4 linked regions of the Homo sapiens genome follow. The protein of the gene in region 4 purifies or fractionates together with the protein of the main gene of each other region. This does not show direct contact. Each region holds a gene or a part of one and is shown on either strand. Other genes may lie near its edges.

Region 1 (3,500 bases), on a different chromosome or scaffold from region 4:
GCAGAAGCTGCCTCATCTTCTCAGGGTGAGACCCAAGGCTGCAGGGTGACGACATCCACATTTCCGAAGCCTGAGGTCCCAGGGTGACAGTTCCCCCAGCCTTGCGAGGGGGCGCTAGCACCCCAACCTGCCGGCCCATTAGGCCCCCTCCAGGAACTCAGGGACTTAACTCCCCTCCAGGAACCTCTGCCCCCAGACGGGGCCTCTTCTGCCAGAGATTCCTCGTGCTTGAGAAGAATGAGAAGGGCTCAGGTGGGAAATGTATTAATCGGTTATGAAGGCGATGGAGGAGGGGAGGTTGAGGCCGCGTCAGTTGTTTGGGGGCACGTTAGCACGCAGTAGAAGGGGAGCACCACTAGTCTAAGAAATCAGTGTCCTTACCAAAAGGATTTGCAAGAATATTTGTGGCTCAGGACCTAAGGAACTTGCTACAGGGAAGTGAGGTCAGAGGTCAGCTCAATCCTGAAATATAAATGCAGCAAACCTGGTCATGCCAAGCGGCAGCATCCTCAGCACCTGAGGACTCGGGGCTCCTGCCAGGGCTCTTCCTCCTGGCTGTGCTTACACTGCCCGCCCCCCACCCACCCAGGGTGAAGAGCTTTCCTGCTGAGGGTCGAGAGCGCTGATGCCAGCAGCGGGAGGGGAGACAGGGCCTGTCACCGGCAGAGCAGCTGTGAGGTTAGAGGGCTGCCCGGCGGGTGGCTTGGCATGCAGCCATGAGAGGGCAGTTGAGTTCTGATTCCAAAATCATAAACCACCCCTCCTGCTCGGACCCTAGACCGCTGGTTTCTGCTGACAAGTAGGGGGTGATTCCCACAAGCTGCTCTGGGTCGCCAGGCTTGGAAAATGGCACAGCTACCACCTAGACTTCTGCTTTAACCAAAGGACTCCAGGCCACGCTGCAGAAGGGCAGCAGTGTGGGTGAGCACCAGGAGCCTGCTGCGCCTGGTGCAAAGGACTGTCCCTCTGCTGAGACCTCCCCAGCTGTCCCACTGTGCCCAGCGCACCCCTTCCCCGCCCAGCAGGATGGTGTGGAGGGAAAAGGTGGCGGGGTGCCCAGTGGCTGTGCAGGGGGTGTCCAAATGGGAAGGGGGAGCCAATTCCAACAACGAGAAGCCATAGCTGCACTGCCCGGAGCTACAAGGCGCTGCTGCAGGCGCCGGCCTGGGAGGCCGCTGAAGGATGAGCACCAAGAATCCGCTGTGTCCCGAAGGAGAAATGGAGAAATCAGCTCTGTTGGGGACTGTGTGTGTGAGTGACAGCCAGGTCTGCTCCAGGCTCTTTCCTGGCATCTCATTTCTTTAGATGGGGGCAGTGGGGTGTGGAGGGGGTGGGGGGGTGCAGTAAATGGGCTCTGTATCCCCCATCACCAGTGGCCTCCTTCTGGTCAGTGCCAGGGAGGGGTGCCAGGGGTGTGCGAGCCTGGCTGACCAGGGCAGGAAAGAACTCCTAAACTGGGAAGGTGGGGCGGTGGTTGGGCAGAGCGTGTAGGAGCCCCACCTCCTTTCTGGGCCCTTCTGCCAAGGGGCAGGAACATGAAGGGCTCAGAGGGGCACCCCCCTCCCCCAAGAGCCCGCCAGGCGCCAGCGAAGGGGCTGCAGCCTACCTCTGCTCCTCCTCCAGCTCCTCTTTGGTCATCATCTTCTTGTACTGGTTTCCCCTCAGCTTCCCGGGGCTGTATTTGAAGGAGAAGCCTTCTCCTGTGGAGGGGGGACCCAGTAAGTGCCAGGAGTGCTGTAGAGGCTGGCCCCACAAACCCCGGCCCCCTTTCCCTAGGTTTAAAAAGAAACACCTCAAGCAGAGGCCACATCTGGCTATCAGAGACATCTCACCCCAGCGCCTATACCCCCTCTCGTTCCATAGCTTTCCCTTAAATCCTACAACGAGACAGCCAGAGAGAAAGCAGTCCTACTCCTAGTCCACAGCTGTCTCCAGATGCCACATCCCTCCCAACATCTGCAGTGCTCTGCCTTGCCCTGGCCCTGCCCAGCAGGTCCTCTCGGCTACTGAGCTCAGAGGCGACAACTCCGGCAAGCAGAGCACAGCTCATCTTGGGACACACACCACGCCTGCCTGGGCTTGGGGAGGCTTGTGTCATCCCCCCACCCCCTGTGGCTATTGGAAATCTGAAAACACGCATCCAGGCAGCCCACAGTGGCCAGGCCAGGGATGCGGGATTTGCTGCAGCAGGTTTGACGTGTGTACCGCTGAAGAGGCAGAGCCCGATTTGCCAGTCCCCGAGGGGAGACCCCCCATTGCTGCCTGCAAAAAACGGACAGATCTCGAGGCCTGAAGAGGGCACATGGATGGGTAGGTGGTGGGCACAGAGGAAGCCAGGACCTGTGGCCTGGAGTGGACACAGGCTCCGGGCACATGAGCCACGGTGAGGAGAGAAAAGCTGAGCTTCCAGAGGGAAAAGCCCCATGGGGGAGCAACCTCTTGGTTCCTGAATCCAGCAGGTGTCGGGCAGAGCTGGCTGGCCTCTTATCGACCTCCACTAACTAAAGGACCCAGTGAGGGAGGCATAGAGAGATCCTCAGCTGCTATTCTGGAAGTGCTGCCCTCTCTGTCCCTCCATATCCTGTCCAGCAGCCCGAAAAGCCAGGCCCCTCCCCTCTAGCTTGCAGCCTTCATGCTACCGGATAGGCTGATGTGGACCGATGGGGAGGCGGGGGGGCTCTCAGGGTGAAAGGAAGAAGGTTCTAGATGCGAATTCAGAACCCAAACATCTGGTTGGGTGTGGTGGCTCATGCCTGTAATCCCAGCACCTTGGGAGGCCAAGGCAGGTGGATCACTTGAGGCCAGGAGTTCGAGACCAACCTGGCCAATGTGGCAAAACCCCGTCTCTACTAAAAATACAAAAAATTAGCCGGGCGTGGTGGCAGGCGCCTGTAATCCCAGCTACTCAGGAGGCTGAGGCAGGAGAATCGCTTGAACCCGGGAGGCAGAGGTTGCAGTGAGCCGAGATCGCGCCACTGTACTCCAGCCTGGGCAATAGAGTAAGATTCCAGTATCCCCCTACCCCCCAAAAAAAGAAAACATACAAAATCCTGCCTTGGTCCCAGTCTTAGGTTTCAATTTATGGGGCAAGTCTGATTAGTTTTGTTTTCTGAGCCAGACAGAACAAACGACTTGAAAAGGATTTCGCTCAGTCACATGCAGTGCACCAGGCAGCGCATCCAGTTTTGCTAGACCAGAATTCAACGTGACAGCCTCCGAGGGACGGGGGAGGTTTCTTCCTCCAGTCTCCTGTGAATTCACCTAGTCGCTCAGGGAAGTCATTTTAGCGACACTAATAATTAACCTCTGAGGCTGCCTCGTACTGCAGAGGGGCTGGAGGTGCTCACACATTCTTCCAACAGCTGGAGCCATAAACCTTTCCTTTCCCTGCCTTGCTAGAGATGGCAGGAGGCTAAGATGGCAGGAGGCGCTGGGGGTGGGGGATGTTCAGGAGCAGCGGTGCAGATAAGGGGGGAGGCTGGTGACAGTGCTGGGGGACT
Region 2 (3,500 bases), on a different chromosome or scaffold from region 4:
ATATTAACCTTAAATGTAAATGGGCTAAATGCTCCAATTAAAAGACACAGACTGGCACACTGGATAAAGAGTCAAGACCCATCAGGGTGCTGTATTCAGGAAACCCATCTCACGTACAGAGACACACACACATAGGCTCAAAATAAAAGGATGGAGGAAGATCTACCAAGCAAACGGAAAACAAAAAAAAAGGCCGGGGTTGCAATCCTAGTCTCTGATAAAACAGACTTTAAACCAACAAAGATCAAAAGAGACAAAGAAGGCCATTACATGATAGTAAAGGGATCAATTCAACAAGAAGAGCTAACTATCTTAAATATATATGCACCCAATACAGGAGCACCCAGATTCATAAACCAAGTCCTTAGAGACCTACAAAGAGATTTAGACTCCCACACAATAACAATGGGAGACTCTAACACCCCACTGTCAATATTAGACAGATCAACGAGACAGAAAGTTAACAAGGATATCCAGGAATTGAATTCAGCTCTGCACCAAGCAGACCTAATAGACATCTACAGAACTCTCCACCCCAAATCAACAGAATATACATTCTTCTCAGCACCACATCGCACCTATTCCAAAATTGACCACATAGTTGGAAGTAAAGCACTCCTCAGCAAATGTAAAAGAACAGAAATTATAACATACTGTCTCAGACCACAGTGCAATCAAACTAGAACTCAGGATTAAGAAACTCACTCAAAACCACTCAGCTACATGGAAACTGAACAACCTGCTCCTGAATGACTACTGGGTACATAACAAAATGAAGGCAGAAATAAAGATGTTCTTTGAAACCAACGAGAACAAAGACACAACATACCAGAATCTCTGGGACACATTTAAAGCAGTGTGTAGAGGGAAATTTACAGCACTAAGTGCCCACAAGAGAAAGCAGGAAAGATCTAAAATTGACACTCTAACATCACAATTAAAAATATTAGAGAAGCAAGAGCAAACACATTCAACAGCTAGCAGAAGACAAGAAATAACTAAGATCAGAGCAGAACTGAAGGAGACAGAGACACAAAAAAACCTTCAAAAAATGAATGAATCCAGGAGCTGGTTTTTTGAAAAGATAAACACAATTGATAGACCGCTAGCAAGACTAATAAACAAGAAAAGAGAGAAGAATCAAATAAATGCAATAAAAAATGATAAAGTGGATATCACCACCAATCCCACAGAAATACAGAGTACACAGAGAATACTATAAACACCTCTATGCAAATAAACTAGAAAATCTAGAAGAAATAGATAAATTCCTGGACACATACACCCTCTCAAAACTAAACCAGGAAGAAGTTTAATCCCTGAATAGACCAATAACAGGCTCTGAAATTGAGGCAATAATTAATAGCCTACCAACCAAAAAAAGTCCAGGACAAGATGGATTCACAGCCGAATTCTACCAGAGGTACAAGGAAGAGCTGGTACCATTCCTTCTGAAACTATTCCAATCAATAGAAAAAGAGGGAATCCTCCCTAACTCATTTTATGAAGCCAGCATCATCCTGATACCAAAGCCTGGCAGAGACATAACAAAAAAAGAGAACTTTAGACCAATATCCCTGATGAAAATCAATGCAAAAATCCTCAATAAAATACTGGCAAACTGAATCCAGCAGCATATCAAAAAGCTTATCCACCATGATCAAGTGGGCTTCATCCCTGGGATGCAAGGCTGGTTCAACATACACAAATCAATAAAAGTAATCCAGCATATAAACAGAACCAAAGACAAAAACCACATGATTATCTCAACAGATGCAGAAAAGGCCTTGGACAAAATTCAACAGCCCTTCATGCTAAAAACTCTCAATGAATTAGGTATTGATGGGACATATCTCAAAATAATAAGAGCTATCTATGACAAACCCACAGCCAATATCAGACTGAATGGGCAAAAACTGGAAGCATTCCCTTTGAAAACTGGCACAAGACAGGGATGCCCTCTCTCACCACTCCTATTCAACATAGTGTTGGAAGTTCTGGCCAGGGCCATCAGGCAGGAGAAAGAAATAAAGGGTATTCAATAAGGAAAAGAGGAAGTCAAATTGTCCCTGTTTGCAGATGACATGATTTTATATTTAGAAAACCCCATCATCTCAGCCCAAAATCTCCTTAATTTGATAAGCAACTTCAGCAAAATCTCAGGATACAAAATCAATGTGCAAAAATCACAAGCATTCTTATACACCAACAACAGACAAACAGAGAGCCAAATCATGAGTGAACTCCCATTCACAACTGCCTCAAAGAGAATAAAATACCTAGGAATCCAACTTACAAGGGATGTGAAGGACCTCTTCAAGGAGAACTACAAACCACTGCTCAAGGAAATAAAAGAGGACACAAACAAATGGAAGAACATTCCATGCTCATGGATAGGAAGAATCAATATCGTGAAAATGGCTATACTGCCCAAGGTAATTTATAGATTCAATGCCATCCCCATCAAGCTACCCATGACTTTCTTCATAGAATTGGAAAAAACTACTTTAAAGTTCATGTGGAACCAAAAAAGAGCCTGCACTGCCAAAACGATCCTAAGCCAAAAGAACAAAGCTGGAGGCATCACGCTACCTGATTTCAAACTATACTACAAGGCTGCAGTAACCAAAACAGCATGGTACTAGTACCAAAACAGAGATATAGACCAATGGAACAGAACAGAGCCCTCAGAAATAATACCACACATCTACAACTATCTGATCTTTGAGAAACCTGACAAAAACAAGAAATGGGGAAAGGATTCCCTATTTAATAAATGGTGCTGGGAAAACTGGCTAGCCACATGTAGAAAGCTGAAACTGGATCCCTTCCTTACACCTTATACAAAAATTAATTCAAGATGGATTAAAGACTTAAATGTTAGACCTAAAACCATAAAAACCCTAGAAGAAAACCTATGCAGTACCATTCAGGACACAGGCATGGGCAAGGACTTCATGTCTAAAACACCAAAAGCAATGGCAACAGAAGCCAAAATTGACAAATGGGATCTCATTAAACTCAAGAGCTTCTGCACAGCAAAAGAAACTACCATCAGAGTGAACAGGCAACCTACAAAATGGGAGAAAATTTTTGCAATCTACTCATCTGACAAAGGGCTAATATCCAGAATCTACAAGGAACTCAAACAAACTTACAAGAAAAAAACAAACCCCATCAAAAAGTAGGTGAAGGATATGAAGAGACACTTCTCAAAAGAAGACATCCATGCATCCAACAGACACATGAAAAAAATGCTCATCATCATGGGCCATCAGAGAAATGCAAATCAAAACCACAATGAGATACCATCTCACACCAGTTAGAATGTCAATCATTAAAAAGTCAGGAAACAACAGGTGCTGGAGAGGATGTGGAGAAATAGGAACACTTTTACACTGGTGGTGGGACTGTAAACTAGTTCAACCATTGTGGAAGACAGTGTGGCGATTCCTCAGGGATCTAGAACTAGAAATACCATTTGACCCAGCCATCCCATT
Region 3 (3,500 bases), on a different chromosome or scaffold from region 4:
GGATCACGGCCAAGAGGTGGCCCAGGCTGGGGGTTCAGTGACTCCAGCTCAGGATAAGGACAGCATACTGGGTTGAATAGTGTCCCCCCAAAATTCATGTCCCCTGGAACCTGTGACTGTAACCTTATTTGGAAATAGGGTCTTTGCAGATGTAATCAGGTAAGATGAGGTCATACTGGAGTAGGATGGGTCCTAAATCCAATGACCGCTGTCCTTGTAAGAAGAGGGAAATCTGGACACAGACACACAGAGAAGAGAAGGCCATGTGAAGACAGACGCACAGACTGGAGTGATGCAGGTACAAGCCGAGGAACACCAAGGATCACCAACCACCAGCAGAAGCCAGGAGAGTGGCCTGGGATGGTTTCTCCCTCAAAGCCTCCAGAAGGAACCCACCCTGCTAACACCTTGATCTAGACTTCTGGTCTCCAGAACCGGGAGAGAATCCCTTTCTGATGTTTTAAGCCACTCAGTTTTTGGTACTGCGTTACAGAAACCACAGGAACCAAATGCAGCCAGGAAGACCCCCCCACCGCCCCCCGTTCTCTGTCACTTCCTTTGTGCTGCCACCATCCCTGCTCTCTGTATTCCTGCCAACTTCCTGGTCTTCCAACACAGCAAGCTAGTCCCACCCCGGGCCTGTGCACTGGGGCCCTCTGCCTGGGGCAGTTGGCATGCTGTCTTCTCTTGGGTTTGCAGTCCCCAGCTAGCCACCTCAGCACAGAGAGAGGCCTTCCCTGTCCACTCAACTGGAAGTCCCTCAAATTCAAGTTTCCAGAAGTTTCTTTCTTGCTTTCCCCCGAATATTTTCCTCCTCCAGAAGGTGCCCTGTCTCAACTAATGGTGACACCCCTCCCTCATTCAGCTGGAGTATCCCGACGTTCTGATCATTCCCTGTTAAGCCCTGTTCACCCTTTAGGGCCCATCTCCAATGTCACAGTCACCTCCCAGGGGAAGTTCTCCTGATGGCCCAGGTTTTGATCCTGGATGAGAGCAGAAGGCAAGGCATCAGGCAAGCAACAGGGGCAGGGGAACAACTCCCAGAGGGCCTTGGAAATGCTCCACGTTGGGTCAGGGGCCCAGCCCCATTAGCCATTGGCAAATGGAAGAGCTTGACCACATATGCTACCACAGCCACCCAGGTGCTTGCCAGGCCTCCAGACAGAAGCCCCCAGCCCCTCACAACTCCCCCTGCTCAGGGACAGTAGTCCCCCACATCCACATCCCCTCTCCACAGCTCCCACACTACACCCCTGCTGACGGAAGGCCTTCCTGTGGCCAGTAACAGGCCTCCAAGGTGTCCCTTGATGACACTTACCTCTTCGCGATAAACGGTGCCTGTGTCTCCTGGGTAGGACTGCTGGAAAGGAAGCAGAAAGGCAATGCTTTGGGCAGAGCCCGTGGGCAGGTGACATCAAGACCGCTCTACCTCAGAGGGTCCTGGGCCCTCTCCATTCCCGGCACTTCACTGTCCCTGGTGGTAGCCGCCAGACCTCTCCATTTTCTAGAAAGTACATCTGAGAATCTGAGAAGGCTCAGCTAGGAAGGCCCTTGGGGGTGATCTCTCCACCCACCCTTTCATCAGCCAGAGAAGGCTGGAGCTCTGAGGAGAGGAGAGCTGTCCTAGAGCCTGGAGCCAGTTGGTGGCAACTCACCCAGTGCTCTTCTTGGCCGCTGACAGGACGTAGGAGTGCTCCCGGGGAGCTGTCCTCCTCAGAACACCGCTTGCAGCCTCTGACCTGGGGTGACACGGGATGGGGGAGCATCTGATGGGTGCCAAGCTGGACATGCTCTGCCAGCCTAGCCTGGGATGGACTCGGGGTGACTTAGGGCCACCCCAGGGAGGCAAGGGGTGAGAGAAACCAGATTTGCACCTGCTCCAAGGACTATTCAAAGGAAATGTAGAACCTGAAGGAAGGGCAGCCCATGTTTATGGAGCATGTGGCATGTGCCCGGCTCTGCGCCAGATGCCAACATCCTCGCATTGGCTTATTGCTCTTCTCAATCCAGGAAAGTAGACGCTAGTATCCTCTGTGATTTACAGATGAGGAAACTGAGTCCAAGAAGCTTTCATTATTTGCCCAAGAGCACTCACCTAGCAGGTGGCAGAGCTGGCATTCAATGCTAGGCAGCTCCTAGCTTCTGGCTCTTTTCCTTGCTCCACCCAGGCCTGGGGGCCCCTGCCACTGTGAACTGTTCCCTGAGGATAGCCAATCTGCCAGGGCCTTTGGCAATGGGGCTTTGCTGTGATTCCTGCGCCACAGATGGGTCAGCAGATATGGACCTGGTGGCTGGCTGAGCCCAGGGAGGGGAGGGCTTTATTTCCTCAGGGCCCAACTGCTGTACAGGCCCCAAGCCAAAGGCATACAAAAGGTGCTTAACAAACCCTTCCTGTCATAGTTCACCAGCACTGGGTGGTATGTGGTCAGTCCCCATGGACAGAGGACTGAGGAGGGGCAAGGGTCCATGGAACTTTGCTGGCCTGTGTGGACGAGGGCAGCTTGGCGCAGAGACTAGGGTAGAATTTCAGCAGCATGGGGCACACTCCCACTGCTGTGCATGCCTGGAGCTCAGTTTGGGGTCCGGGGCATTCAGAACCCCCAAGGCATGCAGATCATGCAGATAGAGGGCACTGTGCAGGTGGCTTCTCCCTGAATATTTTTGTTCAACTGTCTCAGGGCCCTTTCTAACAAACCGATTTAGAGCCCTGAAGAGCCTCCACATGAGGAGGCTTTTCCCCGGACCCACATTACCTAGGTTCTACCCCACAGAAGGTTCTCAAGGGCCCCTCAGCTGGTCCAACACTGAGTGGGTGGTTCTGGCACTCAGAGAATGACACCTATTCTCATGCTCCGTGGGCTACCGCTGATGGCCTACGTGTTGTGCATTTTGTCACCCCAACCAGTACAATTCATTCCAGCAGTCTTCGAAGACTCAGGCTCCTGCCCTGCCCCCCGGGATGCCCAAAAGGCACCATTCCATTACCTCCGTTTCTGTTCATCTGAGGAGAATGGCACCACCTCCTCCTCCTCCTCCTCCTCGGTGTCCCCTGATGTAGAGCTGCGCCTGATATTGTAGGGTGCCCTAAGAGAGGGGAGAGGCGCTTTCCTGTCATAGGCTGCCACCCTCAGCAGCTTGGCTTCCTGGCTTTCAACAACAATGACGAGGCAAGTCAATATCTCTGCCTTTGGGCCTTAGGTCATGCCACTTGTTCCTCCCTGAGACCAGCTCTCCCCTCCCTCCCTGTTCGAGCCTCTCCCCTTCCCCAGAAAGGTTACCCAGCAGCTCCCCAACCCTGGATGATGGAGGCAAGGGACAAACAACGGAAAGATGTGGTCCCCTGGGAACTAGAGACACAATTCACACCTCTGTCCAGAGAACCCTCCTCCCTGAGCATGCAGTGGGGGGTGGGGGGCTTTGAAAGGGACCCCAAGGGGAGCACTAAGGGAAAACCCGAAGGTTTCTATCCAAGAAGCAGCTCAGATTTAGGCACACAATGC
Region 4 (3,500 bases):
TGCCAGCTCTTGAGGCCACACTTAGACTAAGATGTCAGAGAAGTCAGTCTCAGGTGCAGGAGTCAAGAAAAAATAGATTGGGTAGAGAATAAGAGCAATTTTGAGAGCCTGATGGAAAAACCAAGCAGACATTACCAAAGGATGAAGGACACGAGCCTCATGCTTTTACTAAGCTGTATGAGTGACATGGGGAAGCAACTTATGTTGTTAGTGAAAGGTTCTTTCTTTCTCGCTCTCTTTTTTTTTTTTTTTTGAGACAGAGTCTCACTTTGTTGCCTAGGCTGGAGTGCAGTGGCGCAATCTCAGCTCACTGCAACCTCGGCCTCCTGGATTCAAGCGATTCTCAAGACTCAGCCTCCTGAATAGCTGGGACTACAGGTGCCCGCCACCACGGCTGGCTAATTTTTGTATTTTTTGTAGAGATGGGGTTTCGCCATGTAGGCCAGGTTGGTCTCGAACTCCTGAACTCAAGTGATCTGCCTAGGATTACAGGCGTGAGCTACCGTGCCCGGCCGGGAAAGGTTGTTTTTAAATTTTTTTTTACTTTTATCTTTTTGAGGGTCTCCCTCTGTTACCCAGGCTGGAGTGCAGTGGTGCAGTCACTGCTCACTGAAGCCTCAGCCCCTTGAGCTTGTGCCATCCTCCCACCTCAGCCTCTCATGTATCTGGGACTGCAGGGGCATGCCACCGTGCCCAGCTAATTTTTTAAAATTGTATTTTATAGTTATGGGGTCTCACAATGTTGCCCAGGTTGGCTTTGAACTTGGGCCCAAGTGATTCTGCTGCCTAGGCCTATTGTACTTGCATGATGGAAATGGAATATAAAGGCCTGTGTTGTTTTAATCCACATTTATGGACAAGTTAGTCTCCTGTTGTCATCTGTGTCTTCTGAAGGAGTCACCTGTTTGGTTAAATAAATTCTGGCCGTTTTCTCTTAATTCATTTGCCTGAAAAAAAAATTTTTATTCTACCTCTCCTTTGAACAGCATCCTGGTGGGGAAGAAGTTTTAAGGGAACAAGCTGGAGGTGACGCTACTGAGAACTTTGAGGATGTCGGGCACTCTACAGATGCCAGGGAAATGTCCAAAACATTCATCATTGGGGAGCTCCATCCAGTAAGTACATTTTGGGGGCCCTTTCTTATTTGTATTTAAGGCTATCAGATGACCTTACCCTAGTCTGTAAGCTTGCATGTATACACATTTTAAAAGGAGTAAAGCAAAAACAACTCCTGATTTTAGGACACCATTTTTTGTTATAAATAAATTGACCAAAAATGTCTTTGCATTTCACTGTTGCTTTTTTTTTTTTTTTTTTGAGACAGGTCTTACTCTGTCACCCAGGCTGGAGTGCAGTGGCACGATCATGGCTCCCTGCAGCCTCAACCTCCTGGGCTCAAGCCATCCTCCTGCCTCAGCCTCTTGGTAGCTGGGACTACAGGCACACACCTCCACGCCTGATAAATTTCATAGTTTTTGTAGAGACGGGGTTTCACCGTGTTGCCCAGGCTGGTCTCAAACTCCTGGACTCAAGCGATCCACCCACCTCGGCCTCTCAAAGTGTTGGGATTACAGGCGTGAGCCCCCACACCTGGCCTGGTTGCATTGTTTACTGGCACTTCGTTTTAGTCAGCAGGCTCCACCCCACAGCCATGCACTGGGGAGTCTGCTCAGTCCTAGAAATTCCATGGGGCAGCACGTTTTACAAGGTGGGGAGAATCAACCCAGCATTGCTTTCTTTCCTTTTCTGACCAAAATATTTTTATTAAGAACCCCACTTCTACTTTCATTAGGCCAAGGATATTTTAGTTCTAAAAAATGATTTAAAAAATATAAAAACGGAGCTATGTGAAATGAATAAGCTCTGCCTTCTGTAGAACTAGCACATTGTCCATATTCTACTCACTGTACCCCAGACCTTCGAGAATATCAGCTCTGGACCAATTCATTGACCAACTTTTGGAAAACACTGGCCTAATTTGGCTTTTCTTTTCTTTTTTTTTTTTTTTGAGACAGAGTCTTGCTCTGTTGCCCAGGCTGGAGTGCAGTGGCGCGATCTCGGCCCACTGCAACCTCCACCTCCTGGGTTCAAGCAATTCTCCTGCCTTAGCCTCCCAAGTATCTGGGATTACAGGCACAGGCCACCATGCCTGGCCAATTGTTTTGTATTTTTAGTAGAGATGGGGTTTCGCCATGTTGGCCAGGTTGGCCTTGTACTCCTGACCTCAGGTAATCCACCTACCTAGGCCTCCCAGAGTGCTAGGATTACAGGTGTGAGTCACCGCACCTAGTCCTAATTTGGCTTTTCTATAAACACTGTGCTGTGTTACGGTTTTAGACCCCTCTGTGGCAGTTGTAAATGACCATGTTAAATGTTACTAGTCTGTCAACCTAAGTTATCAGGAAAATCGCTGAAAACTTGGAAAGAAGTTGCCGAGCGCTCTGAGCTTCTGGAGTGGATCCTGGGGCCGCACACTCAGCTGCCCTGTCCACCTCTGGGAGTGCCTGGCTCCGTCCTGCCTTCCCACTTGTGGTGCATGGTTAGCAGCCCGCCAGAAGGGGACAAAGACCTGCTAGGAGCCCGCTCTGCTCTCGTAAGAAAAAAATGGAGAGGCAAATAGCCTCATTCTAAGTGAGCAAACTGAGAAACTCTTAAAGAATATAGGAAAAGTCTTATCGTATACCACTGATGATCCCTGTAATGACTGTGAATGAAGAAGAGGTTACATTAGGTTCTTTGTAGAAGGCTCGAAAGTAGGAAATCCATTTGAGAACAACTTCATTGAGTTGGGAGGTTTGTTTGATTTTGTTTTTGGTGGTAGGAGATATGTACTTTGAGGGAGTAAGCTTCATTCATCTGACAAGTTTATTTGCCCCGATATTTTCATCCCATACTTCACAAAGGCAAAGTGTCTTAGGGTCATCAGGGAGGCCTGCCGTTACACATGCCTGATCCCATCCTTGTTTCCAGCTGTGGGTCAGGTTTCAGGCCCTGACTGTGGCACTTCTGCTTCACCTGCCCACTGGGCTTCCCCCTGGCCAGCCTTTAAACACACTGTATTTTTGACAGCTTCAGCCTGAAGTTGAAATAGTTTATGACTCTAAAACTGGGAGACTGCAGGGCTTAACTGAAGATATCATACACGTAAGAGATACATGCACAATCTCAAATGGAATTTGAGAGGACAGAAGGGAAGAATCAGTCTTCAGCTCCTCCCTGAATTACGTGTCGCAATCTGAGTCTAATAAATGTGTGTGCACATCAGCATGTACAGAGAGCTGTCATGGGTGCTGTTCGAAACTTTGGAACTCTAGATAGAAAATATCTCTTGGCACTTAATCTGCTACTAATTTTTGCTGTTAAATCAGATGGATCAAACTTTGTGTTTAATAGCTAAATGTTGAATCTGAAATGGTAATTACTGAATTATAATTTTAAAAAGTCTCAAAGTCAGCATTTTGGAAGTGGTACTTTCATAGATTTTTAAATTCCATAATGTG

What was found. Proteins that work in one complex are often made in the same cells at the same time.
Region 1: the proteins of CYB5A (region 4) and MXRA7 fractionate together in Homo sapiens (co-fractionation; one large-scale study listed by BioGRID). This does not show direct contact.
Region 2: the proteins of CYB5A (region 4) and SOD2 fractionate together in Homo sapiens (co-fractionation; one large-scale study listed by BioGRID). This does not show direct contact.
Region 3: the proteins of CYB5A (region 4) and ZNF185 purify together in Homo sapiens (co-immunoprecipitation; one large-scale study listed by IntAct). This does not show direct contact.

Annotation. Positions count from the first base shown.
Region 1 is NC_000017.11:76,683,466-76,686,965, forward strand, and holds part of MXRA7 (matrix-remodeling-associated protein 7), read right to left. Parts: intron 1,701-3,500; coding exon 1,607-1,700; intron 463-1,606; coding exon of another isoform or gene 429-462; exon of another isoform or gene 382-428; intron 1-381.
Region 2 is NC_000006.12:159,672,742-159,676,241, forward strand, and holds part of SOD2 (superoxide dismutase [Mn], mitochondrial isoform A precursor), read right to left. Parts: 3' UTR 1-3,500. UniProt on the Homo sapiens protein: Destroys superoxide anion radicals which are normally produced within the cells and which are toxic to biological systems.
Region 3 is NC_000023.11:152,918,567-152,922,066, reverse strand, and holds part of ZNF185 (zinc finger protein 185), read right to left. Parts: intron 3,085-3,500; coding exon 2,986-3,084; intron 1,740-2,985; coding exon 1,656-1,739; intron 1,361-1,655; coding exon 1,319-1,360; intron 1-1,318. UniProt on the Homo sapiens protein: May be involved in the regulation of cellular proliferation and/or differentiation.
Region 4 is NC_000018.10:74,260,964-74,264,463, reverse strand, and holds part of CYB5A (cytochrome b5), read left to right. Parts: intron 1-986; coding exon 987-1,115; intron 1,116-3,500.